Linked DNA regions of Homo sapiens: regions 1, 2 and 4 are each reported to be linked to region 3. The links are microRNA targets in miRTarBase. Many come from high-throughput screens and were not tested one by one. Region 3 holds a microRNA gene; each other region holds the end of a gene's coding sequence.
What was found. Region 3 holds the annotated microRNA hsa-miR-124-3p (UAAGGCACGCGGUGAAUGCCAA, at 3,282-3,303, opposite strand). A microRNA usually pairs through its seed, bases 2 to 8, with sites in the 3' UTR of a target mRNA and lowers its output. Matches are read on the target gene's strand: a 7mer-m8 pairs with bases 2 to 8, a 7mer-A1 pairs with bases 2 to 7 and ends in A, and an 8mer does both.

Region 1 (7,154 bases), not on the chromosome of region 3:
TTCTTGGCCGCCTTCTTCTCCTTCATCCAGGGGTACTCGGGCGGCTGCAGGGCGCCGGCGGGCACCGGGCTGCCGCGGCTGCCCGCGGGGCTCGGCTTGGGGCGGCCGCCAGCGCCGTGGCGAGGGTGACTGCCGGGGTTCAGGCTGGGAATGGTCTGCTCAAAAGGAGGAGGAATCAGTGTCGAGTGTGAAAGCGTCGAGGTCTTGATTGATGAACTTTGAAATGTATCAGCGACAGGGGGAAAAGATGTCAGGCACTCAGCGAGCGACGGCTGGCTATTGATAAAACCAATCTCTCGCTCAAATTCGTAATTCATGGCCTTCTCCTTGGAGCCCCCTCAGAGAAAAAGTTCCCTCTTTTGGAGGGGCTTTGGGGGGGCAAGGCCTAGGAAAAAGGCGAGCGCAGAGGAAAAAAAATCTATCATAGAATATCGCTGCTAGGGTGTTTTTTTTCTAATTCACTGATTACAGCCGTATGGGGACCGCGCTACTATTAAACTATTGAATTCATGGAGACAAGGTTGAAATTGGACCGAATTGGCTGTCACATGATTGCTTCTGCCCAATGACAATTTGGGCTTTAATCAAAAGAAGCCACTGTCTGTTTGATTGATCCAAAAAAGTCGGGAAGGAACGCCTCATTGGGGGCCAGCGAGGCTTTATTTACACTTTTTTCAGAGCAAAAATACATATATGTTGGTGTGGGTGGGGATGTCCCGGAGTACGTGGGGGCGAGGGTGCCTGCGTGCCTCCTGATCTGCAAGGATCTATCTAGTGTGTGTGCCTGGGAGTGTGTGTGTGTGTGTGTGAATGTGCGCGAGTGTAAGCCCTGCTGTCGGTCCCGCCGGTGGCTGCCCTCTGCCTCCCCCGCACACTCCGCGCATTGTTTGGGACTGTCGGGAAGACGCCTCGCACCTCACAAATCATTTAAGCACCTCAGTCTGACGCCTGCAGTCATTAACAAAGTAATCCATTAATCTTCAAAGTTTTGACACCCGAGGGCCCTGCGTCCCAGCCACATAAGTTCTGTTAAAGCAGGAGAAAGGAGCAGAGGAAGAGAGGAGATGAGAGAGGGAGAATAAAGAGAGAGGGAAGAAGAGAGAGTTTGAGAGATGGAGAAAGAGAAGACAGAAAAGAGAGAAGAAAGGAAAGATTTTGGTTGGGAAGGGGTCTTCCTTTTCTTTCCCTTTTCCTCCTTCACTTTTCCTAAAAGCAGTTCCTGGATCTCAAAACTGATCTCTCTCGGTCTGTTTTCCTTCCTGTCTGTCCCTTTCCCTCTTTTTCCTCTTCTCCCCCTTTCTCCCTCCCTCTCTCTTCTGTCCGCCTCCCCTTCTCCCCTCAGCCTCTCGCCCCCCTCCCAGTGTCCAGCCCAGAGTCTGCGCCCCGGGCCCATTGTTAGCAGGCTATTCCACGGCAGCTTTGCATCTGGCTCCGGCGGGAAGCGGAAAACGGGAGGCGGCTCTCGAAGCTTCCCGACCTTCCTGCGCCATCAACTTCTCAGGAGTGGCTGGAGAAAGATGCATGTGCCAAGCGAGACAACAACCCCAGGTCCATGTGTCCAAATCCCCGTAGCCAGGGCGGCGGCCAGCCAAAGAAATGCCGCCCCGAGCAGGCGCGTGCGGCTCCTGGCATTCTGGGTTTCATACCCGTAGGGCTCGGGTGCGGTGAGTATTTCCGATTTCCAGGAAGTCTGTTGGAAGTTACCAGCAGGGAAAGAGAAGATGCTTGCTCCTCTCTTTCCCTCCCTCTCTCTTTTTTTTCTACCCTTCTTCTTGTCCTTGTCGCTCTGGTTGGGGGCTGGTTGGTTTAGATACAGCGAGTGCTCCCTGGCAGCCTGAACTGCCTCCCACACCTTCCTGATCCTTGGGCACCGGGGATGTTTGCTTCCGGGTTCTGTTGTGGGAAACAGCACTGCGGGGGAGAGGAGGCGACCCAAGGAGGAATTATAAAGGTTTTCGTTCTCCTTCATTATCTTTTTTCCAATTCGGAGACTTGAGACTGAGCGCATCTTGGACAGTGCTAGAGGGTTCAAAAGATAACACCTTTAGGTACCAAAAAATAATTTTTAAAAAATCCACCAAGCCAGAAAGAGGTGAGGAGGCTGAGAGGTAGATCTGGAGGTACCTCTTTCCCCCCCAAACCCTGAGGATGGTGATTCGCTTTTGCTTCCTTTGAAATAGACTAACTGATCAGACTCCCCCAGGCCGGCAGGCATCAATGGCAGGAAAATAAATCATTCTGATGGTCAGGGAGAGAGAGGTTGGAGGGGGAGAAAAATCTACGTAGAAAACAAGAAAGGCCAACCAAGGAGCAAAGGCAGGACCCCATCTCTGAGGCCAGCGTCAAAGAGGGTTTGGGGTGGAAATTAGACATAAGTGGCCTATATCATTGACCAGCCCAGAGCATTGCCTTGCAGATAGAGATGCTATTTTGGAAAATGTGAGGTTTTTTAGTTTTCTTGCTTTTATTCCAAACAAAGCTCCAAAGGAAGTCTGGGCGCGATCAATCTTGCTCACCAAAAGCCTTGACAGCTTCTAGCCCTTAAGAACACATTTCAGCTTCCAGCTCCTTCCAAGATAAAATGTGGCCGAGCAAAGAGGAGAGCAGGAAATGCAAGTAAATAAGGAAAACTAGTCTTTTAAAAAATATATTTTGGCAGTGAAAAGGGTTATAGGGCTCCTTTTAGGAAGGGTGCTTTGCGAACCCTGGGATGGCAGCTTTTGGCATCTGCTTTTACCAGAAAATATTACAGGCTTAAGGGAACGTGGGCGGGGGGTGCAGAGAGGGAGCAGCGCTGCCCCCATATCTCTGAGGCTTTGTCAGGGGCTGCGTGGGTGAGAGCTTTCTGCTGCCTCAGCCGCCTTAATTCAAATACCATCTGGAAGAAAACCCTTTTCTTTGACCACTCAACACTGAAATCTTCCCCAAATCTATTACTTTAACTTATGAGATATTTTAATAAGGATTTCTTTTTAATATCTAGGAAACTGGGGGGTGAAGTCAATACTTTTTTCTTTGAAAGCCAAAATGAATGTCTTGACTGGTAAGATGCGGGAAATCACATTAGAATCTCATTTTAAAATCTTAGCCCTGGGGGAAGGAGGAAGCCTCCAAACCACCCCTCCCTCAGCTAAAGAGTAGATTTCAGAAACGTGTTCAAATAGTGATATCCCTGAAGGATCTTCATCCTTAGGTGAATCTCTCCCCTAGCTGTTCCTTATTTTTCCAGGTAATTTTACACGTGTCTCTAAGCTGATTACTTAAAAGAAGACTCCTGTATCTGCTTAGCGTGACGAAGAGGTGGAAGCTCTAGTCTTCACAAAGCCTGGTTTTGCAGCCTCTGCATTTCTGAGGTGCGCCATATTTTGGCGCAGAGGTTGAGGTGCGGAGAGGAAATCTATTTCTCCCATAGCCCAAACCCTTTAAAAAGGATATATATATCAGCAGCCTTAGGACAGATATGGGGAAAGCACCTCTGGGTGTGAGAGAAACACTGAGCTCTCCACAGCAGCCTGGCTTGGCATCCTCCGAGCCTTTTCCTTAAACCATGAGGAGTTTCTCTAAAAGCAGCTCGTTGGGACCCAGCAGGTACCCAGAAATGGCTCCAGTGCCTGCTTCTAAGGATAATCTGAGGGAGCTTCACAGGGGGAAGATAAAGGCCATGATGATGGATATTTTGGATTGCAAACAAAATGGCGACATTTTCCACTTCTGTCTCTGAAAGATACAATCCAGGGAGAATAGGGATTTATTTCTCACATCCGATGCTCCTGATCCCCAGACGAAAGCAGTTCCTCGCTTCTAGCTCTGAAGGGGGTGATGATGGGGATGCAGGTCTGAGGTCTGCATTTTCTGAATTTGATTCCTTTCTCGAGGAATCCTTAAATCTGAAGATGAAAATATTTCCCTTTACTGTGCCTTCTTTTGCCTCTTCTAGCCAGTCAGTAAGCAGCCCTATCTTAAATCCAGGAGTGGAAATGTAATATTTAGCTCCTACAACATCAAATGAAAAATTTATAAAATTGCAGTTTTATTACAAAGATACCGATCTCCTTGCTCTCTCCCCCTCCCCCTGGGGCCATAAAAAGAAAGCTGGGTGGGGGAAGGAGAGGAAATAAATTCAGAGAATGCCAAATACTACATTCAGCAGGAAGCTAATGCTGGGATTCCGGCAGTCCAGGGAAGGGCTGGCTCAGGGTGACTCTCCCCAGTTCAGTCCTCCGTTTGCTGGAGACCTGGGTGAGCCTCAGTCCCTTTCAAACTGTTTCGCTCCGCGTGCAGATTTTTGGAGCAATTCTTTCCTCCTGACGCGATAACAGACCGCGAAGCATCCCCGGAGGAGACCAGGAGTCCGATTGCTCCCGGAAAGTGCTCGGCATCCTCTGCGCGGCTGGCTAATACCGAGGTTTAGGCGTTAGTTGGTCCGCTTTGACCCGAGGAAGAGCATGGAGCAGAAGACCGCCCTGCGTTATCCCCCGGCTGGGCCGCGGGGCACCTGTGCGCTCCCGCTGCGCCTTGGGCCGGGATGTCTTTGTTTCTTCCGTGCACAGCACTCGGCAGCCCCTGCGCCCTCAGCCTGCCTCCGCAGCAGCTGGGAACCGGGCAGCCCAGCTGGCCCGCCGCACGGCGTTACCAGAGCTGCCGCAGCCGCCTGGAGCCCCAGCCGCCATCCTGAGAATTCGCCGAGCTTCCAGGCGAATAGCCTGGCCAGGCCCCATGCTGGAGCCAGAGGGCTGCTGCGTCCGGCCTGCTCTGCCGGCTCGCCTCGGCCTGAATTCCACGCAGACCCACGTCTTCGGCCAAAGAACCCCTTCTTAACACGGATATTATTCAGAATAAAAACTTTATTTCTTTTTGTTTCTCAGAATGTGAGCAGCAAGGAATGAAGAACTCTCAAAACAAATCTAGTATTTTTCGCGTTTACAGATTTTTTTTTTCAGTTTTGCCGGATGTTACAAACCTAAATCACTGTTTTCAAAAGCTGGATCTTCTCTGGTTTTATTGTATCGTTACCGTTTAAAGGAATTATATTTCTCTTTCAAATAAAAAAAATTCTAAGTACGCCAATACACAATTGAACAAAAGGCCCAAGAACCCTTCTGAACCATCAGGGTACAGAATTCTTTAATATAAATACGAACGGATGGGGATAAATAATATTTAAAACTTAGATTATTCAATGCTTGCAAAAAAATATAAATAAATCTGACTGTTCACCAGCATACACACACGGAAAGACGTACACTTAGTCATCCTTGCACAGAGAGCCCCTGTTTCAAAGCGCCTTTGATTTTTTTTCTCACTCTTTACAAGAAGTGCAATTAAAAAAAAAATTTAAAATTAAAAAAAGTAATCGCTTCCCCTCGGGAGCCATAATGTAAGAACAAATTCACATTGAAAACTCGACTAGAAAATTTGTTCATATACCCTGTTTCTGATCAAAGAGTGGAGAAGGTAAAGGGTGCAGGGCCAGTGGCCTATCGAGGAGCAGGAAGAGATAAATATCGCTATGATACAGCCATTCCAGCAACCAAGATTGCTACGTCACATAAACTATAAAAACGCCTTACCAACGAGGGGGGAAACCGGGAAACGGAGTGCGGGGCGGAGAAGAGAGAAAAGGAAGGAAGGAAAGGGCAGGAAGAACCTAAAAAAAAAAAAAAAAAAAAGCAACCAAAGAAAAAAGGTGGGTGGGGGGAGACTCTCCTGGCGCGTAGCCCCAAGCCCACTATCACAGGTGGGTGAGCTTGGGTGCTTCCTGAATTCTTCCCTGAGAAGGATGGTGGCCGGTAAGGTCCGTGTAGGTGGGGTGCGGCTCCCCAGGCCCCGGCCCGTGGTGGTGGCCGCTGCCCAGCGGCCCGGCACCCCCATAGTCCATGGCGCCCGAGGCAGCGTGGGGGAGGTGAGTTAGACCAAAGAGGGCTGGCCCGGAGTTGCTCATGGGCTCCACATAGCTGCCCCCCACGAAGACGGGGCTTCCCTGTATGTGTGGGGTCCCATAGCTGCCGTTGCCCTGCAGGCCATGAGCGTGCGGGTCATAGTCGGGGGTGCCCCCTGCGCCCGCCCCTGCCGCCGTGTAGCGCTTCTGTGGGGGTGGCGGGGGTGCGCAGCTGGGCAGGGACGCAGGGTAGGAGGCGGGGGGCAGCCCGTAGGTACCCTGGGGGGGCTTGGAGAAGGGCGGGGGCGACTGGGGCTCATACGGGACGCTGTTGACCAGCGAATGCATAGAGTTCAGATAGCCACCGGCTCCGGGGGGCACGGGGCTGCGACTTGGAGACTGGCCCCCCGATGACGTTAGCATGCCCTTGCCCTTCTGATCCTTTTTGTACTTCATGCGGCGATTCTGGAACCAGATCTTGATCTGGCGCTCAGTGAGGTTCAGCAGATTGGCCATCTCCACCCGGCGCGGCCGGCACAGGTAGCGGTTGAAGTGGAACTCTTTCTCCAGCTCCACCAGCTGCGCGCTCGTGTAGGCCGTGCGCGCGCGCTTGGACGAAGCCTGCCCCGGCGGGCTCTTGTCGCCAGCGCAGCTTTCGCCTGCGAGGACAGAGAGAGGAAGAGCGGCGTCAGGGGCTGCCGCGGCCCCGCCCAGCCCCTGACCCAGCCCGGCCCCTCCTTCCACCAGGCCCCAAAGGTTCCTGCATCCGTCAGGTCCCAGAGAGAAGTAGGAACTAGGTGCTATCCTCTCTCCTGGTGGGTAAAACAGTGATACTCCCTCATTTAGCCAAGGAGCAAATCACAGCCTTCTCGGGGGAAAGGACAGAGAAGTAGAACCCCCGGTTTGCCTTCCTGGTCTGGATTTTCTGTTTAGAGCTATTAACTTTCTGACTCATTTACTGGTCCCTTTGGCCTATCGGACAACAGCCTCCCTGTGGGCCGGTCTCAGCATCTCCATTCTCTTCACAGTAACTGAAATGTGGGAAACCTAATGTACACACTCATTTCCCTCCCACACTGTCTGACAATAATTAGGCAGTAGCTTCAACTGGCCACTTTTTTCTCTCTACCCAGAGGAGATGGGCAGACTGGAAACCTCAAACTGGAAGGCCTTCTCTGCCCAAAGAAGAGATCCCATTGAAGGTATTTCTGGTGGGGAGGCCTAGGCCCTTCATGCTAGGTCCTATTCTTTAGGGTTCCCTATGTCATCAAGCAGC
Region 2 (7,154 bases), not on the chromosome of region 3:
CTGATAAAAATGCCACTAAGTGAACACAAGCTTGTTCCTGGTTGGCAGGTTCTTTACTGCATGGCCCCCGAGACCTCCAGACCCTTTACTGAAGGCCCCCATTACCACTGCCCCATTGTTTCCTCAGCTTACTTAGGGTTTTGCCACATTACCCCTTCCCCTCACCCCGAAATTTTTTTTTTTTTCCCTGAGATGGAGTCTTGCTCTGCTGCCCCGGCTGGAGTGCAGTGGCACGATTTTGGCTCACTGCAACCTCCACCTCCCGGGTTCAAGTGATTCTCCTGCCTCAGCCTTCTGAGTAGCTGGGCTTACAGGCACATGCCACCATGACCAGCTAAGTTTTGTATTTTTATTAGAGATGGGGTTTCACCATGTTGGCCAGGCTGGTTTCAAACTCCTGATCTCAGGTGATCCACCCACCTCAGCCTCCCAAAGTACTGTGATTACAGGTGTGAGCCACCATGCCTGGCCTCACCCAGAAACATTTTGAATGAGCTTAATGGAAGTAGAAGTCTTTGTTAGTAGTTCTCTGTAAACATTTTCACTTTCTTCATGGGACGATCCTTTCCGCCCCCACTTAAGGCACCCAGTCCTGGCTGGGCCCTGGACACATTGCTGAGATGGGCTGACCACCAATACCAGGCCCAGTCATTAAAAGTACCTGATGTTAGAAGATCAAGTGTTAAATGTCATAGCCTAGAAGGAGCAGTTCTGGGAGAAGAACCCAGATGTCCTCAGTGCTCCACTCCATACGAGCCCTGGGATGCTGGGGTGTGAGCTAGGCCGTGCACAAGCCATTAGAAGGTGTTCCACACAGGGGAGCGTCTCTACCCCCTTATCCATGATGTCCACACCCAGCTGGCTGGCAAGATCACGGGCATGCTGCTGGAGATTGACAACTCAGAGCTGTTGCTCATGCTGGAGTCTCCAGAATCCCTCCATGCCAAGGTAAGCAGGAGCCTGGGCAGCAGGGAGCCCGAGGGGGCAGGAGGAGAGCTAACGACAAGGGCTCTCCTAGTGGAGCCAGTGGATAGCTGTTTGGCCAGATAAAGTGTTTCTTCTTGCTAATACCTGAAGGCCTGCTGAATCTTAAGAGTGGAAGGGGCCTTAGGTAAGGGTTTGCTACTTCAGCCCTTCCGTAGACTAATTCTGTGTTGTTCTGTAGGTAGGTCTTTTGGTACAAGGAAGTGTGTTGTGACTCAGTGTAAGGGTTAAGATTTTTCCAGCTGTCCAGCAATGTACCTCTGTGTCAAAGGTGACAGACAGGGCCATGGGATCTTGCAAGCAGTGGTGGATGGGAGGGTTCCACAGAAACCCTGTGGATGGAGGAGGATCCTGTATCCAGGATGGTGAGCGAGGGGGAGATCAAGGCTCTTCTGTGACCTGCTAAGATAGCTGCACTAAGCCCCCCCGCCACTCATGTCTCACAGATAGACGAGGCAGTGGCCGTGCTGCAGGCACACCAGGCTATGGAGCAGCCGAAGGCGTACATGCACTGAAACCAGGTGGGTGGAATGGTGACAGAAGCAGCTGAGCCCGGGAGAAGCTGTAAGGAAATAGGCAGGGACTGACTTTCACAAACACTGAGAATTGCGCCGTGTTCCTGGCTTTCTCTGAAGCACCAAAGAGTTTGGAGGAAGTTGTGAGAATCAGAGGAGATGATTAACTGTGATCGGAATGGGGGGTGGTGGAGGGTGAAGGAGGTGCCCTCTTGCCAGCTGCCCTGCCTGGCTTCATGCAGAATAGTTTGGGCTTTCCCAGGGCCCTGCCTGGCTCCATTCTGCCTGCCTGAAGGCCTGGCCAGGATGTAACCACCTTCTTTATTGAAGACTGGGTGTCTGCCATACTTTAAAAACACTTATTTTTACCTTTTTGTCCTCAGAAAAGGAAATCCTCGCTTCCATGGCTGCCAAAAGGACAGTGTTTCTGGCTCTCAGCCCTAAGGCCCTGCAAACTCTAACTTATTTCCCAATTAGTCTGTATCTATACTTGGGCTCTGTATGTGAATGAAGGTTGGTCACCCATCCAGCCTATTACCTTTTGCTTTGTGTATTAAAAGTGCTGCAAAATCTGCCTTGCCTCCCAGGAGGCCCTTTTGTGTCTGAGGGAGGTGGGGACAGAGCAAACGGTAGACATGACTGGGGTGGGGCTCAGGCTCTAAGAAACAGAAACCCTAAAGGAGTGCTGAAGTACACAGAGGGCATATACACAAGAGCAGGAGAAGTGTTAGGAACTGACCCATCAACAGTACAGTGGATGATGACATGGATATCACACAATGGACCAGAGCTACAGGGGCCCCCATCTGATGTGCATGCAGCCCCTGGCTTGGGCACCCTGCAGGGCAAACACCCAGCTGCTTCTCGGCTGGCTAAGGGGTTGTGTAACATAATTAACCCTTGTAGGAACGTTTTAGGGTACCTTCCCAGGTCAGGATTTTCCTCCCCTAATGGAGAAGTCTCTCGAAAAGCTTCTTTGTGTCAGTTAGTGCTCACCTCCCATCAGGGACGTACAGTCCAGGTCTTTGCCCTCTCGTGTACCGGAGCGGCCCAGTGAAAGTGGCTACTATGACCCAAGCAGACTGGGTTCTGCTAAAAATTCACCAGCAACAAATCTGACCGAGTCCTCAAGGCTGCTCTGCCACTCTCAGCAACTCACTCTTCCTGTTCTCCGCTCCACAGACCTCCAACCTGTCTTCACCATGTCCTGCCCACTTCTTTGGCTGCTTTTAATCTGTTCCCTGTGCAGCTCCATCGTCTTCTCCCCAAATCCTGACTGCTGGCATTTCTTTACTCTCAGTCCTGGGCCCTCTCGGTTTCTCATGCCATGTTCTCCTGAGCTATCTAATTTACAAGCGCATCTTCCATTTGTACCCAGTCGAGGATGACTCCCTGTTTTTTTCTTCAGCCCAGTCAACTCTTAAGAGCACCTGAGTCACCTCTCTTACATTCCACCGCCTACCTGCCATCAGCTCCTGGTTATCTTGGTAACACTCATGTCTAAATTCAAGCTTATGATTTAACTAAGTTTCTTTCTTTTTCATTCCTTGGTTCTTTTTTTTTTGAGACGGAGTCTCGCTCTGTCACCCAGGCTGGAGTGCAGTGACGTGACCTCTGCTCACTGCAACCTCCACCTCCTGGGTTCAAGCAGTTCTTTTGCCTCAGCCTCCAGAGTAGCTGGGACTACAGGTGCACTCCACCACACCCAGCTAATTTTTGTATTTTTAGTAGAGATGAGGTTTCACCATATTGGTCAGGCTGATCTCGAACTCCTGACGTCAGGTGATCCACCCGCCTCGGGTGGGGTTTACAGGCATGAGCCACCGTGCCCGGTCTTATTCTCTGATTCTCTCTTCCAGTGTTCTGTCTCCATAAATGGCCCCACCATTCTGTTGCAAAAGCCAAAATCAGAGGGTTTCCCCAGCCCTGCTGCCACACCACTTTCTCTCCTCCCCTCTTCCAGAGAAAATCCACCAACATGACCTCCTACCAGATCCAAATCCACTACCACTACCTAGTGGAATAAATCCACTAATTTGAGCTAAGCTCAACCCCTGCGCTCACTGCCTTCTGCCAGTTAACTGCATTTACCCTGGCCCTCCCGCAGTCTGTCCTCCACCATGCAGTCCTAAGGCTTCTTTCAAAATGCCTCTCTAATGTCTCATCCTTGCATAAATCCTGCAGTAGCTTCCCATCATTAGAATAAGGACTACTTTACACAGCCTAGGAGACCCTGCATGATCTGCTCTCTGCCCTGTCATTCCCACGTAACGGTGTTTTACCTTCTCTGGGAGTCGGGGTAGAATTCCATCATGACCATTAAGACAGTCACATTGATAGCTGTGTGTCCCTCTCCTAGAAACATTAACCTATGAGAAGCAGAAGTTTTATTCCTCAAAGCATCTCTGGAAAAGACTGAATGATGTTAAATTTCAAAGATGAGTGATGGGGATGAGGAAGCTTATGTTGTGTTCTTCAGACATTTTTGAAGTACAAAATGAGTAGTCTCTTCGGGTTGTGCCGGCCCCACCCTCTGTGTCTTCACTAGCAAATCAAGTTGCTTGCCTTCTAGAGCTCAGAATGATGTAAACCAGTTGTGACTGGATGTCACGAAACCTGCCTCACATCAGTCCTGCCTGCTTATGAGGCAATAAAAGGGGTACGGTGCCCCACTTTGAAACTGTCCCTTGACTGTGCCGATGGGGTTTGTCTGACTCTAACTCTGCTTCAGCCTGGATGTCTGTGATGGCTCAGACAACAGACTCATCCTTAAGAGAGCTCAGAGGTGGTGTGCTTAACGCCGAGTGCTGCCTAGCACTATGTGATGGGAGCCAAGGGATGATCAGACCCCTTTGTCTACTCTGCTCTGTGGAATCCTAAAACTCTACTTCCATTAGGTGAAAACCAGCCCAGGAAAGGGAGGCAGCCCTTGATTCTAGCTAGATCCTAGAGCACTCTCCAGCCTCACCCCATACCATGTTTTGTGAATTTCATCAGCCCTTTTAGGTCCCTGTACTCACTGGCTGTGCTCCCAATGAGGGCCTTACATGGCCGTTCTGTCCACGGTGTTTCCCTCCCCTCTTCACTAGTTAACCTCCCCATCTGGAACTCAATTCAAGCTTTACTTACTCAGGGACCCCCTTCCCTCCACTGCATCAAATTTCCCCTTTTGGGCAGGGAAATCACTGACGACTGCTTCACAACACTCAGGCAAGCTGCAATTTTACATGTGTGTGGTTGTCTGATTAACTTCTTGCCTTCCCACTGGACTACCAGCCCTCTGAGAGCAGGGGCTGTGTCTATTCACTGCTATCTATCTATCTCCCTAGCACTATTCACAGTGCCTGGCCCATGCAGACATGTCAATAAATTTGTTCAACAAATGAATGAATGCCCAATAAGCAATAACTTTTATTATTACTACAGAGTTCCAGGTGCAAAGCTGAAAAGGCATAAATGAAAGCACAGCAGATATTGATGTAGAAGAAAGCTTTTTAATGCAACAGCTTAAACACACAGTTCAACAAAATCAGTCAATTCAAATTAACTTCAACATATTACAAAGAACTATGAAGCCCGGAGAAGGCCACTGTTGGAACAAAAAACCAAGTCCCTGCCCAGAAAGCATGGACACTGACCAAGGAGGCCTCTTGCCCCCTCCCACCTCTAGGAGGAGCAGCCACAATCACTGGGCTCTTTAAACAGCTTAGGTGCCTCTCTGCAGAAGGCAGCAGCACAGAGTCAAGGACAACCATTCAAGGGTCAGGGCTCTGCCTTCCCACCAAAGGAGGGCCCGAACAGAAGGCACTGGGGCTCAGACATAGGAGACTGTGCAAGGACAGGACAGGGCAGGGACAGCAGCTGTACACCTGGAGAGACTGCAGCCCTGGAGAACCAGCTCAACAGGCTGCTTTGGATCAGGGCCTTAGGTTTATCCCCCTCCTTCCACCCCGGCCCAGGAGCTCAGGTTGTTCAGATGAACTGCAGTGAGTTGGGGTCTGGGGAAGCTACAAGGGCAGCACTCAGTCTGCAGCCCACTTGGGCAGGACAAAGCCAAATGCTTTGCTGATGAGGATCTGTTGGTGTGATCAGCTAGCTGGGCTGGGGGAATAGGGACAGAGCTTCAGCTTCACGCTTAGCTCTAGTGGGGACCTTTCTGGTGCAACAACCATGTCTGTGTTTGACTACACTGAGTTTAATTTGAACAAGCAAAGCCTCTTACAGGGTGGGAGGCCATCAAGGGATTGAGGAGGGGGCTTCAGAGCTCACTTGGGGCATGCTGGGTTTCAGGAGCGGGCACAGAGCAGGTGGCCCATGGCTTCTCTGGGTAAGGTCAGGCAGGGGTTCCAGTTGCCCTGTTGGGTTTTTAGTGTAGGTTCTGCTTCACTTCCTGCCGCAACTTCTGTGCAGGACCATTCCTAGGCTCAATCTGTAGGAGGTTGCTGATGTCTGCAAAGCTGGATTTATAGTCCTAATAGAAGAAAAGACAGGAGTGTGGGGGAAGGTTCCCGGACTGGGGTGGGGATAGCTGCTGAGGCAGCAAAGTGTTTTCAAACCCCAGCCCACAGGCCTGCTCTGAGTTATCCTGGGCCCAGGATGAGAAGGAAAAGCTGCAGATATTGTCTCAGCTTGGCTACACCCTGTAAATGGTGACACTGGCATAAATCTCTGTAGCTATGTTGGGACCTTTTGGCCAGGATTTTTTTTTACCTTGAGTGCTTTGTGGGCTTGAGCCCGTCTGTAGAATGCCTTCACGTTCTTTCCATCCAGCTTGAGGGCTTCTGTGCAGTCCTTCACTGCTTCTGTGTACTGCTTCAGGACCAAATAGCAGAGTGCTCTGAAGGGAAAGACCATTTCAGAGGTTTCAGTCACGTCTTATGGGCCACCCACATGCCACGCAGTAGTTTGAGAAGTGATCTCCAATTTGCTGAACACCTACTCTGTGCTGGTTACTTTATGTCTTCTTAAATCCTCACAACAATCCTAGCCCTTTTCATGGATGAAACATGCTGGCTCAGAAGGGTAAAGGAACTTGGGCCAGGTACCGCCAGTATTAAGGGGCAGACCCAGGATTCAAATAGGCGGGCGTTCGTTCATGGGACTCCAGATCCTGATCTCATCTAGTTCTATCATGCTGTACTGCGCTCTCCTATACTGAGCTCTTTCAAGCAAAGAAAAGGTTTCCTGAAACTTTTCCCTTGACAGATTAAAAAATTATCTACTTTAAGGGGGAAAAAAAAACCCAACAACTACTGAACTCTAATGATATAATGCTGACATGGGGTGAAATGTAAAGACGTTTGCAATTTACTTTTAAGTGCATCAAACACAATAATACAGACCAACAGATGGCTAAATAGTGATAAGGCAATGTAATAATACTAATTGTAGAATTTAGATGGTAGGTCTATGGGTGTTCAATGTACAAATCTTTCAACTTTCCTATATTTTGAACATTTTCATAATAAAATGTTGGAAAAAAGTTATGTGCATCCATACAATATATTCTGCATCTGTGGGTTCAAAAAAGTGCATGTGTGTATATATCTTCCTCATTCAGATCTAGTCCTTCTCTCCAAAGACAGTCACTAAAAACAAAACAGTCAGATGTCTGGGCGCTCATTACATAAGTTCATCTGTTCCACCTCACTGTTT
Region 3 (7,000 bases):
CATCCTCGTCACTGTGAATCAGCCAGCCCAGCCTCCAACACACATACCACCAGCACAACTCCTCATGTTGACTCGTGGGCCCTGAAACCACCCACAGAGTAGATGAGGAAAGGGAGGCTCCATCTGTCCTAGGGAGAACGCTTTGCAGCTGCCCCCAGAAGACTCCATTCTAAGGTTGGAATGGGAGGAGGATATTATGTAAGTTCAAGAGGAGGAAAGAGAAAATGTTTTCTCTGTGGAAGCAGCATAGATGGATGGACTTTTGGTGGCTAAATGCCTTCCTCTAAATGCTAGCATTGGATACGGTTATGCGGGAAAATATATGTGTGCATATGGGCACACCCCTCCTCCGAATATCTCTCTGGCAAAAGCTCCTCATACATTCACAAAAGCCGCCCCCCTCCCTTTGGTAACAGAAGTAACTTACAGGAGTTTACCTTTGCCTCTGCTAGAAGGTCAATCTCTTTTCCGCTTAAGAGGAGATCTGGGCTGTTTCTGGCAGGGGAAAGAAGAGTATCACCAATTTTTCCTTTGACACATTTCTAAATCTGGAAGTATCTGGTAGAGTTACCTCAAGAATCATATAAGCTTGCATCACGATGGGGACTGTGATGGCAGTGGTGCATATGAGCCCATCAGGTCCTTCTTCGCGTATTCAGTCAGCAAACTGCCTCAACCGTGTCCTACTTTTTCTTAAGCATATAATTCCCCTTTCATTTAAGCCAGACTGTAGCTAGAGGGGCTCAAATAGGTAAGAGAGAAGATACTAAAGAGTTAAATGCACTCAAAGGGGAGAACTATTCAGATTTCTTATAAAATTACTGGTGGCATAAATAGGCCCCAAATACAGAAGGGAAGGGCTGACCTTCACTCGGACACCTCATTTGAGCACAGAAGGGGCCTGGCAATTACACATGGGGCCAAGTGGTCTATTCATCTCTTTGCCATTTTCAGCCATTAAAGCCCTACATAAACATACATTTCATAATGAGACCCACCCGGTGGACACAGGCAAATGCCCACACCCATGCGCACAGACCTAATAGACCCAGAACACTCCCACACACATTAAAGCTTTCTGGAACAAGAGTTTACATAAGTAATGAAGTAAAAAATATGCCCCTCCCATCATAGATTATCTGCAGCAGAAACCTGGCAGGCGTCAGCCATGGTACCTGTGGTTTAAGCTCTCAGCTTAAAGCATCTGAAAGGGGCATTACGTGGGAAGGCATCTGGAGGTTTTACAGGAGGGCAGCACATCAGCGAAGGGTACAGCAACCTCTGAAGGAATTACGGGGAAGCAGTTACTAAAAAGAGGCTCGTCAATGTGGACGTTTGTGGGGCAAGGGGTTTAGTAATCGGAGGCTTAAACCATGCCTAAGAGAAGCATCCAGCGGCCTTCACAGTGAGCAGAAGGGGCAGAGCAAGGCGCTTCACACCCCAATAAGGCCCAGCACTGACTGCTTTCTTCTTCCCAAACCTGTCCAGAAAGGGCGGAGGGGACACCAGGACTCAGAAAGCTACTGGTTTCGGGGGAGGTATATTTTGAAGGCAACGGCAAATAGACAAGGGCTTGTGAAGGCTCAGGGGTGAGAGAAGCTGTTCTCCCTTTCTGTCCTGCAGCCAAGCTTGCCTTCTGGGACTCCAGAGGCAGCCCAGCACCTGCAGTCTGCAGGATGTGCACTGCAGCTTTCTCTCTGCGGGGGCAAGCAGGTTGTGCCACATTCTGCAGACCCAGAGAAGGTTCTGGAAGTATCTAGGTGAGGTGCAACACACTTAACCTCTGCCTGACTCTAAACACTGCTTTAGGAGGGCAAATGAAGAGCCTAAGAGTTAATAATTACACAAGGATTGCACACAGTAGGTACTTAATAAATATTTGGGGAAACTGAGGCCGGGGAGGGGCCCTGATCCAAGGCATCACTGAATACTAATTTATTTAGCAGGCTAGACTGAGGCTTTGGAGAGGAAAGAAGTCCTCAGTAAGCTTCAGTGGAGACTCTTAGGGCTTGATTATTGTGTCAGGAATCAAATTAATCTCCTAAGCATCCCTTATGGCCTTGGCCTTGCAAAGCCAGGCCTCTGCCATGCTCGGGGGAAGGGATGCAGCAGGCTTCCTGGGCAGAAGGATCCAGCTCTTGGCCTCCTTTCTCTGCTCCTCCCTCTACTGCAGGGACCTGCCCCTCCTCCATTTCCTCCACCTGGAAATTAATGAGCTTAGGTCTTGCCCCATCCGCTGCAGCTTGGTGGTTAATACAGAGCTGGAAATGGGATGAGACTGTGGCAGCGCAGTACGAGGGGGGTCTCTAGGACCAGCTGCTGCTCAGGGTCTAGTGATGGGAGGAAGGCCTGATTTGGGAAGCAGGTTCTTCAGGATGAAAAGCTTAACCCTTTCCATTCCCTGACAGCCTCTTTCAAAACAGTCTTTCCTCAGACCCCCAGTTGCACACATTCTGTTTTTCCTTCTGTTCACATTTTTAAAGGAACACATGTCTCCCTTGGGTCCATGTAGGTTATTGTGCCTCTCCCTTCCTCTGCAGCTCCTGGATCTCTGCCTGAAACTGCAATAACAGCTACAGGGAGGGCGTGAGGTGCTCCTTAGAGCCATGACCACGCTTTCAACTCCGATAGAGCTTGTGAACCCGCTGGGAGCTGGCTCCTTCTTGTCCACATAGCCCAACGACTTCCTTAAGCTTGTCAGGTGCTCTCAGCTCTACAGCAAAGTGTGACAAACAGCTCCCCCTCTCCCTTCCTACCGCCTGCCCTCCTCCCCAAACCTCAAGCAGAACACAATATATCCGCAGTCCAGGCCCTGAGGCAGTCTGCCAGTCTCTGGATGCCAAATTATTATTTTTTTAAGGGCAAACCAAAAAACTCAGCTCAGAACAAAAACACAGTCACGGAGGAAGGTGTTGACCCACATACAATGAGTCCTGAGCCCAGAGAAAAATCTGCACACACAAGCACTCCGCAATGCGCTCCCAGGCGACCCCCTCCCCACGCACACCGCATCTGTGCTGCACAGATCTGCTTCTGTCACAGAATCAGCTTCTGTTTCTCTCCCTGAGTCTGTTTGCATCTCTAAGCCCCTGTCTGTCACAGGCTGCACACCTCCCCACCCCACGGGCTCCGGTGCGGGACAGGCAGCCGGAGGGAGCTCCAGACCCCTCCCCTCGCGCCCGCGGCCGCTGCGCGGAGGTCTGCGGAGGGCGCCTGGCTCGGTCGGTCGCTCCTTCCTTGGCGGGCCCTCGCCGACCCACGGTGCTCAGCCAGCCCCATTCTTGGCATTCACCGCGTGCCTTAATTGTATGGACATTTAAATCAAGGTCCGCTGTGAACACGGAGAGAGAGGCCTTTCTCCTGAGGAAGGAAAGGAGGAAGGAAGGAAGGAAAGGTGAAAGAAAGGAAGAGGGGTGGGTAGAAGATGGAATAAGAAAACCAGGAAAAAGAAATAAAAAGCGGCGCGTGTGCGTGCGCACTGACAGCGGGGAGAGGGATGGGGGTGGGGAACGCCGGAGGAAGGGACCACAGCATCCTCCCCGCCGCAGCTCCCCCAATCACACAGACAATGAGATAACAGCGACGTCTTCCAAAGGCTCTTTGTTCTCCCCCATCCTTTCGCATCCAGGCTTTTTCCTGCAAAGCGGAGGGGGTGGAGGGATGGGGGTGTGGGTGGAAGTGGGAGACGGAGGGGTGCCTCCCCCGTGTTAATTACCCCGGCTCCCCTCGCCCCTTTCCCCGCGCCTCGCCTCCCCTGCAGCTCCAGACAATGAAAAAACAACATCGACCCCACCTCGCCCCAGCGCAGCAACCCACCCACCCATGTCGCCCTCTGCTTCGCCCAGGAAACTGAAGGGGACTAGGAGGAGGAAGAAGAGAGCGAAGGACAAGGAGAGCAGCGGGGACTCGGCAGCGGCAGCCGGGGCAGGGCGCGCGGCCGCCGCCTCTTTACCTCCATCGCTGAGTGGGGGCGCAGCCGGGCCGGGCGTGCCGCAGGGGCGAGTTGCCGCGGTCCGGGGCTGGGACCTGGGGATTCAGCCTTCCGGAACTCGCCTGCTGCAGTCCTCTCGCTCAGGTCCCAAGTGGTGGAGGGGGGAAAGGAAGAGAGACGAGAGAGAGAGAGACAGAGAGAGAGAGAGAGAGAGGAAGAAGAAGAAGAAGAAGAAAAAAAAACCATAAGAGCGAGGCCCATCTGGCCCCTCATCAGCTTTGTCAAGTCTTGCATACGCTAAAATGCTAATGACCTAGATAGCTCATGCAAAATGCAGCAGGGAGGGCGGGAGCGAGGGAGGTGGGAGGGAGGAAGAGAGAGGAGTGCAGGGGGGAGGGAGGGAGGAGAGGCGGAGGGAGGGAGAGAGGGAGAGAGCACCCCTACACTCTCCCCACCCCACCCCCAACTGTCAGCGGGCTTTACCAGGTAAAGGGTGGACGTAGATTTAAAAGGTCACTCGTGTATAATGCGGCTGGATCCCCGGGTCAAAAAAAGGGGGCGAGACAGAGGATGAGAGTCCCTAAAGCCAAAAGGACAATAAGACATCATTTTAAGCCCCCACCCCCATGCCCTCCTCCACCTCTCCACACTGTTTACACACAAATCCTGTCGCCGCCTCATGCATGTGCACGGACATGTCAATTTCTCATCAATTTCTCAGCGCTCCTATCGACAGACACCCGAATTCTCATTCCCAGCAAAACTCATCCACTGGACCCGAGGGAGGAGAAGACCCCTTCTCCTCCTCAGTGCTCTTCGGGCTGGCCCATCCCTACTCACCTCCATCTCCACTCTCTACTCCCTTAGCCCTCCAGGCAGCAGAGGGCTCCTTCTCTTTTCTAAGCCTTGAGTCCCCTGTCCCCTTTCCAACCCCCGCATCTTGAGAAGGAGACGCAGAGTAGCAGGAAAGCCAAGTCAAGTCCACCTAGGTCTCCCACAATTCAGCTACCCCTCCCAGAAAAAAAAAGAGACCCCAACAACCCCGACCCCTCTCCTACGTAGACACTGTGAAAGCAAGCCACAGGGACAAATAAAAGACAATCCGAATACCCTCAGCGTTCCGCACGCCGGGCGGACGCCCTTCCGCAGCGGCCACGCGTGTTCTGGGTTCAGCGCTCCTGCGCGTCCCTTCTCGCCGAACCCAAGGTGCTTTGTCCCGGCGGCCACACAAGGTCTTCGGCTTTTTGTTCTCCTTTTTTAAGAGACTGGCCGCAGTCCCCAGCGATTCAGCCGGCCCAACCAAAGGCAGTGGATCTACTGAAATGAAAAGGATCGAGATAATACACAGGCAGATGAATAAGGGGGGGGATGCTGGAGGTGCAGGAAGCATCCTGGGAGCGGCCGCCACGGCCAAGCCCGAACTGCTTGCTGCCTTCGCTGGGGAAGGCGCAGGAGGCGAGCCGGCGCTGGTGGTCGCTCCACCTGGCAGGAGGAAATGATAACCATGATAAGGAACGTGATGATGATGATGATGATGATGATGATGATGATGAGCATGATTTAAAAAAAATCAGTCTCCCTCTTGGTGAACCAGAGCATGCGTGCCGGAGGGACTGCACTGCTGGCGGCGGCGGCCGGGGGAAGGAGAGCGGCGCAGGAGGCAAAGGTTGAGGAGGCAGCACCCTCGGATGAATAATAACACCGCGCCGCGCAAGTTGCGGAGCCGCCTGGAAATCCAGCCCTTCGCGTGAACTCGCGTCGAGCGCGGATTGCAGGGGATGAGGAAGAAGGGGGAGGGGAGGGGAGGGTGGAGGAGGGAGGGGGAGGGGTAGAGGGGAAGGCAGAGAGGGACAGAGAGAATTGGGAGCCTTTTAATTTTTCCTTACCAAGCCCTAATCTCGTGCGCCGTCCTCTTTGGCTGAGGTCGAGCTCCTTTTTAAAAATTATTACTCCTTTAAAGGATTATTCAGGTAAAGGAAGCCGCATCTGCTGACGGTTCCGAAAACAAGAGGATTAGGAGCCCGTCCACAGATCCAGGCCCGCAGACCCCCACCCCCTCTGCACCAGCACACGTCATTCTCACTGCCCCCGGGTACCTCCCTCTCCTTCGTGCTCGGGGAGAGCTGTGCCAAGGAAAATGCGGATTTGGGGAAAGTGAGAAGTGGGAGAGCTCGGAAGAGCGGGAAAGCCAAGGCCGGAGGTGGCGATTCGCACCCCCACACTCACACGCGCTTCCGTTTATCCGTTTCTATCCCGGGAAAAGGGGGCGCCTGCCCGAGCCCACGCGCGCCGCCGCATCTGCAGCGGTCGGCGCCCCACGCTCCCTGAACGCCCCCCAGGCGGCACCAGTGCCGGGCAGAGTCCCCTCGGCGGCCGCGGGCGTCAAATCGACACCTGACTCCACAGCTCCCTTCCCTCTCCTCTTCTTCCACCTCCCCGGGGGTCCAGGCACCGCCGTGCGTCCACTCCCGGTCTCCACGGCTTAGGCAGACGGAGTGGGGGACTCCGGGGACCCGCGCGTCCTCTCCTCCTCGGCCCTGGCGGGAGGAGCCGGGCTGGGGTTTCCGCGGGCCGCGGCGCGTTTTAGGGCTGCCGGGGACTGCGGCGGATGCGGTTGACATCACTGCGGCGGCTGCCGGGCCGCTGCGGCGACCTGAGCGCCGGTGCAGCCTCCCCCACCCCGCCTGGGCGGGCGTCTGGGCAGGACAGCTGCGGGGGGTTGGGAGAGGAGTCGGGGAGAGGGGGACGATCGCCCCATCCCCCGCCCCCCCGCAGTCAAGGTGAACATGAAGGAGAGCCGGCGCGCGTGCCCGCGCCTGGGAGGCGCGCGGCCCCGCCCCTCCCGGAGCCCTCCAGCGCGCCCGGGCCAGATGGACGCCCGAGATTAGAGGCGCAGAAGTGCGCTCCACGACGGGCCCACCCGTCCCGCGGACATCAGACCTACTTCGGGGAGGCGCCTTTTGTTGTGGTGGCCGTGGCGGTGTTTGTGTCTTTCCGGGAGCACAGGGTGAGCTTGGCCTTCAGGAATGACTCAGAATGAATCCGCCTATAAGAGCCAAACTAAAGACG
Region 4 (7,125 bases), not on the chromosome of region 3:
CTCCCAGGTTCAAGCAATTCTCCTGCCTCAGCCTCCCTAGTAGCTGGGACTACACATGCGTGCCACCACACCTGGCTAATTTTTTTTTTTGTATTTTTAGTGGAGATGGGGTTTCACTATGTTGGCCAGGCTGGTCTCGAACTCCTGACTTTGTGATCTGCCTGCCTCGGCCTCCCAAAGTGCTGGGATTACAGTCGTGAGCCACCGCACCCAGCCGCACCTACTCTTTTGTAAAGCACCTGTGACAATGAAGGACAGATTTATCACCTTGACGATTGTGGTGATGGGGACCTGATCCCAGCAGTCACAGGTCACAGGGGAAGGTCCCTGCTGAAGACAGACCTCAGAAGGGCAGTTGATCCAGGACCCACACCTGCTTTCTTCACGTTTCCTGATCCTGCCCTGGGTCTGCAGTCACAGTTCAGGAAACTTCTCTGGGATCCAAAACTAGGAGGTTCCTCTAGGACCTTATGGCCCTGCCTCCTCCCTGGCCCCTCACAGGACATTTTCTTCCAACAGGTGGAAAAGGAGGGAGCTACTCTAAGGCTGAGTGTAAGTGCGGGGCGGGAGCGTGGAGGAGCTCGCCCACCCTATAATTCCTCCTGCACCACATCTCCTGTGGGCTCTGACCAGGTCTTGTTTTTGTTCTACCCCAGGGAGCGACAGTGCCCAGGGGTCTGAGTCTCACAGCTTGTAAAGGTGAGATTCTGGGGGTCTGAAGTGGGTGGAGGGTGGGGCAGAGGGGACAGGACTGGGTTGTGGGGATTTTTTGATTCAGAATTTTTGAGTGTGTGGTGGGCTGTTCAGAGTGTCATCACTTACCGTGACTGACCTGAATTTGTTCATGACTATTTTCTTCTGTAGCCTGAGACAGCTGCCTTGTGTGCGACTGAGATGCACAGCTGCCTTGTGTGCGACTGAGATGCAGGATTTCCTCACGCCTCCCCTATGTGTCTTAGGGGACTCTGGCTTCTCTTTTTGCAAGGGCCTCTGAATCTGTCTGTGTCCCTGTTAGCACAATGTGAGGAGGTAGAGAAACAGTCCACCTCTGTGTCTACCATGACCCCCTTCCTCACACTGACCTGTGTTCCTTCCCTGTTCTCTTTTCTATTAAAAATAAGAACCTGGGCAGAGTGCGGCAGCTCATGCCTGTAATCCCAGCACTTAGGGAGGCCGAGGAGGGCAGATCACGAGGTCAGGAGATCGAAACCATCCTGGCTAACACGGTGAAACCCCGTCTCTACTAAAAAATACAAAAAATTAGCTGGGCGCAGAGGCACGGGCCTGTAGTCCCAGCTACTCAGGAGGCGGAGGCAGGAGAATGGCGTCAACCCGGGAGGCGGAGGTTGCAGTGAGCCAGGATTGTGCGACTGCACTCCAGCCTGGGTGACAGGGTGAAACGCCATCTCAAAAAATAAAAATTGAAAAATAAAAAAAGAACCTGGATCTCAATTTAATTTTTCATATTCTTGCAATGAAATGGACTTGAGGAAGCTAAGATCATAGCTAGAAATACAGATAATTCCACAGCACATCTCTAGCAAATTTAGCCTATTCCTATTCTCTAGCCTATTCCTTACCACCTGTAATCTTGACCATATACCTTGGAGTTGAATATTGTTTTCATACTGCTGTGGTTTGAATGTTCCCTCCAACACTCATGTTGAGACTTAATCCCTAATGTGGCAATACTGAAAGGTGGGGCCTTTGAGATGTGATTGGATCGTAAGGCTGTGCCTTCATTCATGGGTTAATGGATTAATGGGTTATCACAGGAATGGGACTGGTGGCTTTATAAGAAGAGGAAAAGAGAACTGAGCTAGCATGCCCAGCCCACAGAGAGCCTCCACTAGAGTGATGCTAAGTGGAAATGTGAGGTGCAGCTGCCACAGAGGGCCCCCACCAGGGAAATGTCTAGTGTCTAGTGGATCCAGGCCACAGGAGAGAGTGCCTTGTGGAGCGCTGGGAGCAGGACCTGACCACCACCAGGACCCCAGAACTGTGGAGTCAGTGGCAGCATGCAGCGCCCCCTTGGGAAAGCTTTAGGCACCAGCCTGCAACCCATTCGAGCAGCCACGTAGGCTGCACCCAGCAAAGCCACAGGCACGGGGCTACCTGAGGCCTTGGGGGCCCAATCCCTGCTCCAGTGTGTCCGTGAGGCAGCACACGAAGTCAAAAGAGATTATTCTCTTCCCACAGATACCTTTTCTCTCCCATGACCCTTTAACAGCATCTGCTTCATTCCCCTCACCTTCCCAGGCTGATCTGAGGTAAACTTTGAAGTAAAATAAAAGCTGTGTTTGAGCATCATTTGTATTTCATTTGTGCGTTTTGTGCCTTGTTGTTTTAATTTTTTAACCACATTCAAGCTATCCTTTGGCTTCCAATGCCATGGTCCACCCAGAACTGCATTCACTGGCCCATGTTCTAGTTCTGGTCATGCCGACTTTCCCGTTTTCCTGGTGAATCCCTGTAATCACCTGAGTCTCATTCTGTCAGGTGATATCCAGTAAGAAGGCAACATGTGCGGTGAGAAAGCCCAGGGAGTCCTGGGTGTGAATTTTTACTTTGCCATTTCTTCCTGTGTGACACGCGGTGGGGCTTCACCTGTCTGAGCTCCAGTTCCTCATCTTGTACGTGGCACTGTTTTCTTGGGAGAGTCATTATAAAGCTAATATAAAGTACCTGTACTGTGGTTTGAATGTGTCCTCCAAAAAGCATGTGTTGGAAACTGAATCCACAATGCAACCATATCGGGAAGTGAATCCTAATGGCTGGCTGGCCATGGAGGTTCCAACTTTATGAATGGATTAATACTGATTATAAAAGGGCTTGAGGTTGAGGCAAGTTCAACCTCTTGCCCTCACTCACCCACTTGCCTTTACCAAGAGATGATACAGCAAAAAGACTCACCAAATGCCGGGATCTTGATATTAGACTTCTTATCCTCCAGAACCATGAAATAGGCTGCTTTGCTTTATAAATTACTCAGTCTGCGTATTATATTACAGCAACACAAGATGGGCAACCTGATACTTAGGTTTCAGTTAGTGGTAGATATTTTTATTTCAAGCATTCCTACTGGAGTATTAGTTTCTTCATAAGCCCAGAATCTTTGCATTTTAGCAACAACAAATAAGTCTTTTTTTTTTTTTTTTTTGAGACTGAGTTTCACTCTTGTCACCCAGGCTAGAGTGCAATGGCATGACCTTGGCTCACTGCAAACTTGGCCTCCCAGGTTTAAGTGATTCTCCTGCTTCAGCCTCCCAAGTAGCTGGGATTACAGGCGCCTGCTACCACGCCCAGCTAATTTTTGTATTTTTAGTAGAGACAGAGTTTCATCATGTTGGCCAGCTGGTCTCGAACTCCTGATCTCAGGTGATCCACCCACCTTGGCCTCCCAAAGTGCTGGGATTATAGGCATGAGCCACCACGTTCCACCAGAAGTCTTAATTAATGCAAAGAAAATCAATCTATAGATTTGATGGAAATTTGGACTCCTATATCCTACTTTTTATCCCACTCCTATATACTACTCATAAGGAGTATAGAACTATTTTCCTTCTCTACTTGGTCTGCCCATTTCTACTTCCTGCCATATCGGCAGGCTATGTTTGCCTCACCTCAAAGATCTGCCTTCCTCAGTTTTAGATCTTAAATCTTTTTAAGCCAGACTCCAAGGGATCTTTAACAAATATTTATCGAACCCTTCCTGTGTTCAAAGAATGTTGTGAGGTCCAGGGTGGGACTAGGGGGCGAGAAAGGTTCCTGCGCTGAAGGAATCTAAGATTTAGTAACAATGAATAAACAGACTTGAAGATAACTATTGTGGTTAGCGCTGAAAGAAACGTACAAAATGCCAAAAGTCAAGGAGGAAACTATGTTTTCTAGGACAGTGGTTCCCAACATTTTTGGCATCAGGGACCGGTTTCATGGAAGACAATTTTTCGGAGGGGTGGTTTTGGGATGATTCAAGCGCGTTACCTGTATTGTGGACTTTATTTCTATTATTACATTATAATACATAATGAAATAATTATACAACTCACCATAATGTAGAGTCAGTAGGAGCCCTGAGCTTGTTTTCCTGCAACTAGACAGTCCCATCTGAGGGTGATGGGAGACACTGACAGGTCATCAGGCATTAGATTCTCATAGGAGCGAGCAACCTAGATCCCTCGCATGCACAGTTCACAATAAGATTCACACTCCTATGAGAATCTAACCCCACTGCTGATCTGACAGGAGGCAGAGCTCAGGCGCTAATGCTTGGTCACCTGCCACTCACCTCCTACTGTGCAGCCCAGTTCCTAACAGGCCATGGACCGGTACCAGTCCATGGCCCAGGGCTTGGGAACCCCTGTTTTAGGAGACTTAGGTTTTTCTAAAGGAAAAAATGTTTGAGTTATGCTTTGAAAAATGTAAGACACCACTGTAGATGTTTTAATCAGGGAATTGGGTTATTACCAAAAAAAAAATGTTGGAAGATGAAAGAGCAGGTTCTTTATGCCTCCTGGCTTGACCCTGGAACAATTTAGAACCAGCCCAGTGAGGCATGTACTCCCCATGAGGCCACACAAGAGCTGTGCTTTCTTAGATCTGGATCCCACTACCACATAGGGGTTCCTGGGCACCTGGACACCAGGGAAGAGGGGTCAACCAGGTCCCACTCCTCTGGCATGACACTCAGTGATTCAGTCAAGATACTGTTGGGAAAACAGCCCATGCCATGGGACTTCCCCATGGTCGGAAAAGTCTTGAATAGCTAAAAGCAAAACAGGATAGTTAGGCTGCATTATGTAGATAATGGTGACTCATGGGCAGGCCCTGCCTCCTTGGGCCATTGTATGTGAACAGATCTTTGTGTGATTATGGGATAATTCTGGGTTCTTTTCTCCATGTGCCTGTTCTTAATTGGCCCAGGAGAGGGAACCCAAGGGAAGGAGGAACCCGAGTGATCTTGTCCTCTTTTGACATCTCATTTCTAGCCACAAGGTTATGAATCATAGATCTCCAGAAGTCAGTGGTCCTAGAGGAAAAAAGCATCTGCCATAGCAGCAGAATGACAGGGAGACAGCTATTCCTATTACTAGAGTTTTAACAGCCCCTCTCAGCCAGCTAGCCCAGACTAGGATCTTAACGGGGGCTGGGACTTACTTCCATATATTGTAAATGATGTAACCTTGTCTTCATGATGACCTTAAATATATCTTGATGAACAGTATAAGAAAGCAAATGAAGCCTGGGCGCGGTGGCTCACGCCTGTAATCCCAGCACTTTGGGAGGCTGAGGCGGGTTGATCACCTGAGGTTGGGAGTTCAAGACCAGCCTGACCAACACGGAGAAACCCTGTCTCTACTAAAAATAAAAAATTAGCTGGGCGTGGTGGCGCATGCCTGTAATCCTAGCTACTCAGGAGGCTGAGGCAGGAGAATCGCTTGAACCCAGGAGGCTGAGGTTGTGCAGTGAGCCAAGATCACACCATTGCACTCCAGCCTGAGCAAGAAGAGTGAAACTGCGCTTCGAAAAGAAAGAAAGAGAGAGAGGGAGGGAGGGAGGAAGGAAGGAAGGAGAGAGAAAGAAAGAAAGAGAGAGAGAAAGAAAGAAAGGAAAGAAGGAAAGAAGGAAAGAAAGGAAGAAAGGAAGAAAGAAAGAAAGGCAAATGATCACTTAGAGGATTTTGTTTGGTAGTTAAAACCATTTTGAAACAGAGGGAGGGAAGAAATCACCTATGCTTCCTCAGTGGTAAAGAGACTGGGAACCACCACGCCAGAGTTAGAAAATATGAGGCAACAGAAGGGCTGTTATATGTAGTGAAAATTTCCAAACCCGGTCCCCTGGAGGGAATACTTGGTGACTGGGCCTTAGAGGAAAGAGATGCTTGTCCAGCCCATTGCCTGTGTGTCCAGGAGAGACTGTGCCCACCTTGAGAGACTGAGAGAAGACCCTAGTGAGGAGAAGCCCCCAGGCCAGCCGTCAGCACAGGGCATTGGAGGTCCCCAACCAGCTCCAAGTCCTGAACAGAGCACAGCCTCCAGAGGTTTGTACTGTTCATACCCAGCAGAGGCTGTGTGCCAGCCCTCCCCATGCAAATCAGCGTCCCTGCAGGGTATGTAAAGGACCTCTACCTATGCTTTCTATGGGGGAACAAATATCCCATGGGACACTGAAAGACTATGGAACATTGTAGAACATGTATTTACCAAACTGTGTCCAACTCAGAGCCTAAATTGTTTATTGGTGCTGTTTCAACCAGTACACGTGATTCTTTTTTTTTTTTTTTTTTTTAGTATTTATTGATCATTCTTGAGTGTTTATCGGAGAGGGGGATTTAGCAGGGTCATAGGACAATAGTGGAGGGAAGGTCAGCAGATAAACATGTGAACAAAGGTCTCTGGTTTTCCTAGGCAGAGGACCCTGCGGCCTTCTGCAGTGTTTGTGTCCCTGGGTACTTGAGATTAGGGAGCGGTGATGACTCTTAATGAGGATGCTGCCTTCAAGCATCTGTTTAACAAAGCACATCTTGCACCGCCCTTAATCCATTTAACCCTGAGTGGACACAGCACATGTTTCAGAGAGCACGGGGTTGGGGGTAAGGCTATAGATCAACAGCATCCCAAGGCAGAAGAACCTCTCCCAGTACAGAACAAAATGGAGTCTCCCATGTCCACCTCTTTCCACACAGACACAGTAACAATCTGATCTCTCTTTCTTTTCCCCACATTTCCCCCTTTTCTATTCGACAAAACCGCCATCGTCATCATGGCCCGTTCTCAATGAGCTGTTGGGTACACCTCCCAGACGGGGTGACGGCCGGGCAGAGGGGCTCCTCACTTCCCAGACGGGCCGGGCAGAGGCGCCCCCCACCTCCCGAACGGGGCGGCTGGCAGGGCGGGGGCTGCCCCCCACCTCCTGGACGGGGCGGCTGCCGGGCGGAGACGCTCCTCACTTCCCAGACGGGGCGGCTGCCGGGCGGAGGGGCTCCTCACTTCTCAGACAGGGCGGCCCGGCAGAGACGCCCCTCACCTCCCAGACGGGGTGGCGGTCGGGCAGAGACACTCCTCAGTTCCCAGACGGGGTCGCCGCCGGACAGAGGCGCTCCGCACATCCCAGACGGGGCGGCGG

Region 1: the mRNA of HOXA3 is a reported target of hsa-miR-124-3p. The part of its 3' UTR that is shown has no 7-base or 8-base seed match.
Region 2: the mRNA of TOMM34 is a reported target of hsa-miR-124-3p. Seed matches in the 3' UTR shown: 7mer-m8 at 5,301-5,307.
Region 4: miRTarBase lists HLA-E as a target of hsa-miR-124-3p. Seed matches in the 3' UTR shown: 7mer-m8 at 1,734-1,740 and 7mer-m8 at 1,948-1,954.

What each region holds. Positions count from the first base shown.
Region 1 is chr7:27,102,184-27,109,337 of GRCh38, forward strand. HOXA3 (homeobox A3) reads right to left here. Exons shown (of 6, transcript NM_153631.3): 6 at 4,827-6,537. The coding sequence ends at 5,732. It overlaps HOXA2 (homeobox A2), which reads right to left and starts at 500. Exons shown (of 2, transcript NM_006735.4): 1 at 1-500. The coding sequence starts at 317. RefSeq lists an enhancer at 335-1,174.
Region 2 is chr20:44,937,244-44,944,397 of GRCh38, forward strand. TOMM34 (translocase of outer mitochondrial membrane 34) reads right to left here. Exons shown (of 7, transcript NM_006809.5): 6 at 6,210-6,336; 7 at 4,887-5,970. The coding sequence ends at 5,866. PABPC1L (poly(A) binding protein cytoplasmic 1 like) reads left to right here. Exons shown (of 15, transcript NM_001372179.1): 13 at 818-948; 14 at 1,431-1,505; 15 at 1,883-2,073. The coding sequence ends at 1,499. Among named protein-coding and RNA genes, the nearest start is that of TOMM34, 20 kb to the right of the region's middle.
Region 3 is chr8:9,900,118-9,907,117 of GRCh38, forward strand. It overlaps MIR124-1 (microRNA 124-1), which reads right to left and starts at 3,355; the gene lies at 3,271-3,355. It overlaps MIR124-1HG (MIR124-1 host gene), which reads right to left and starts at 3,212. Exons shown (of 3, transcript NR_024281.1): 1 at 572-3,212; 2 at 438-495; 3 at 1-169. It overlaps LOC124902057 (a long non-coding RNA gene), which reads right to left. Exons shown (of 4, transcript XR_007061170.1): 2 at 5,042-5,245; 3 at 4,415-4,511; 4 at 3,953-4,070.
Region 4 is chr6:30,491,885-30,499,009 of GRCh38, forward strand. It overlaps HLA-E (major histocompatibility complex, class I, E), which reads left to right. Exons shown (of 8, transcript NM_005516.6): 6 at 520-552; 7 at 657-699; 8 at 865-2,310. The coding sequence ends at 697. Among named protein-coding and RNA genes, the nearest start is that of HLA-E, 5.9 kb to the left of the region's middle.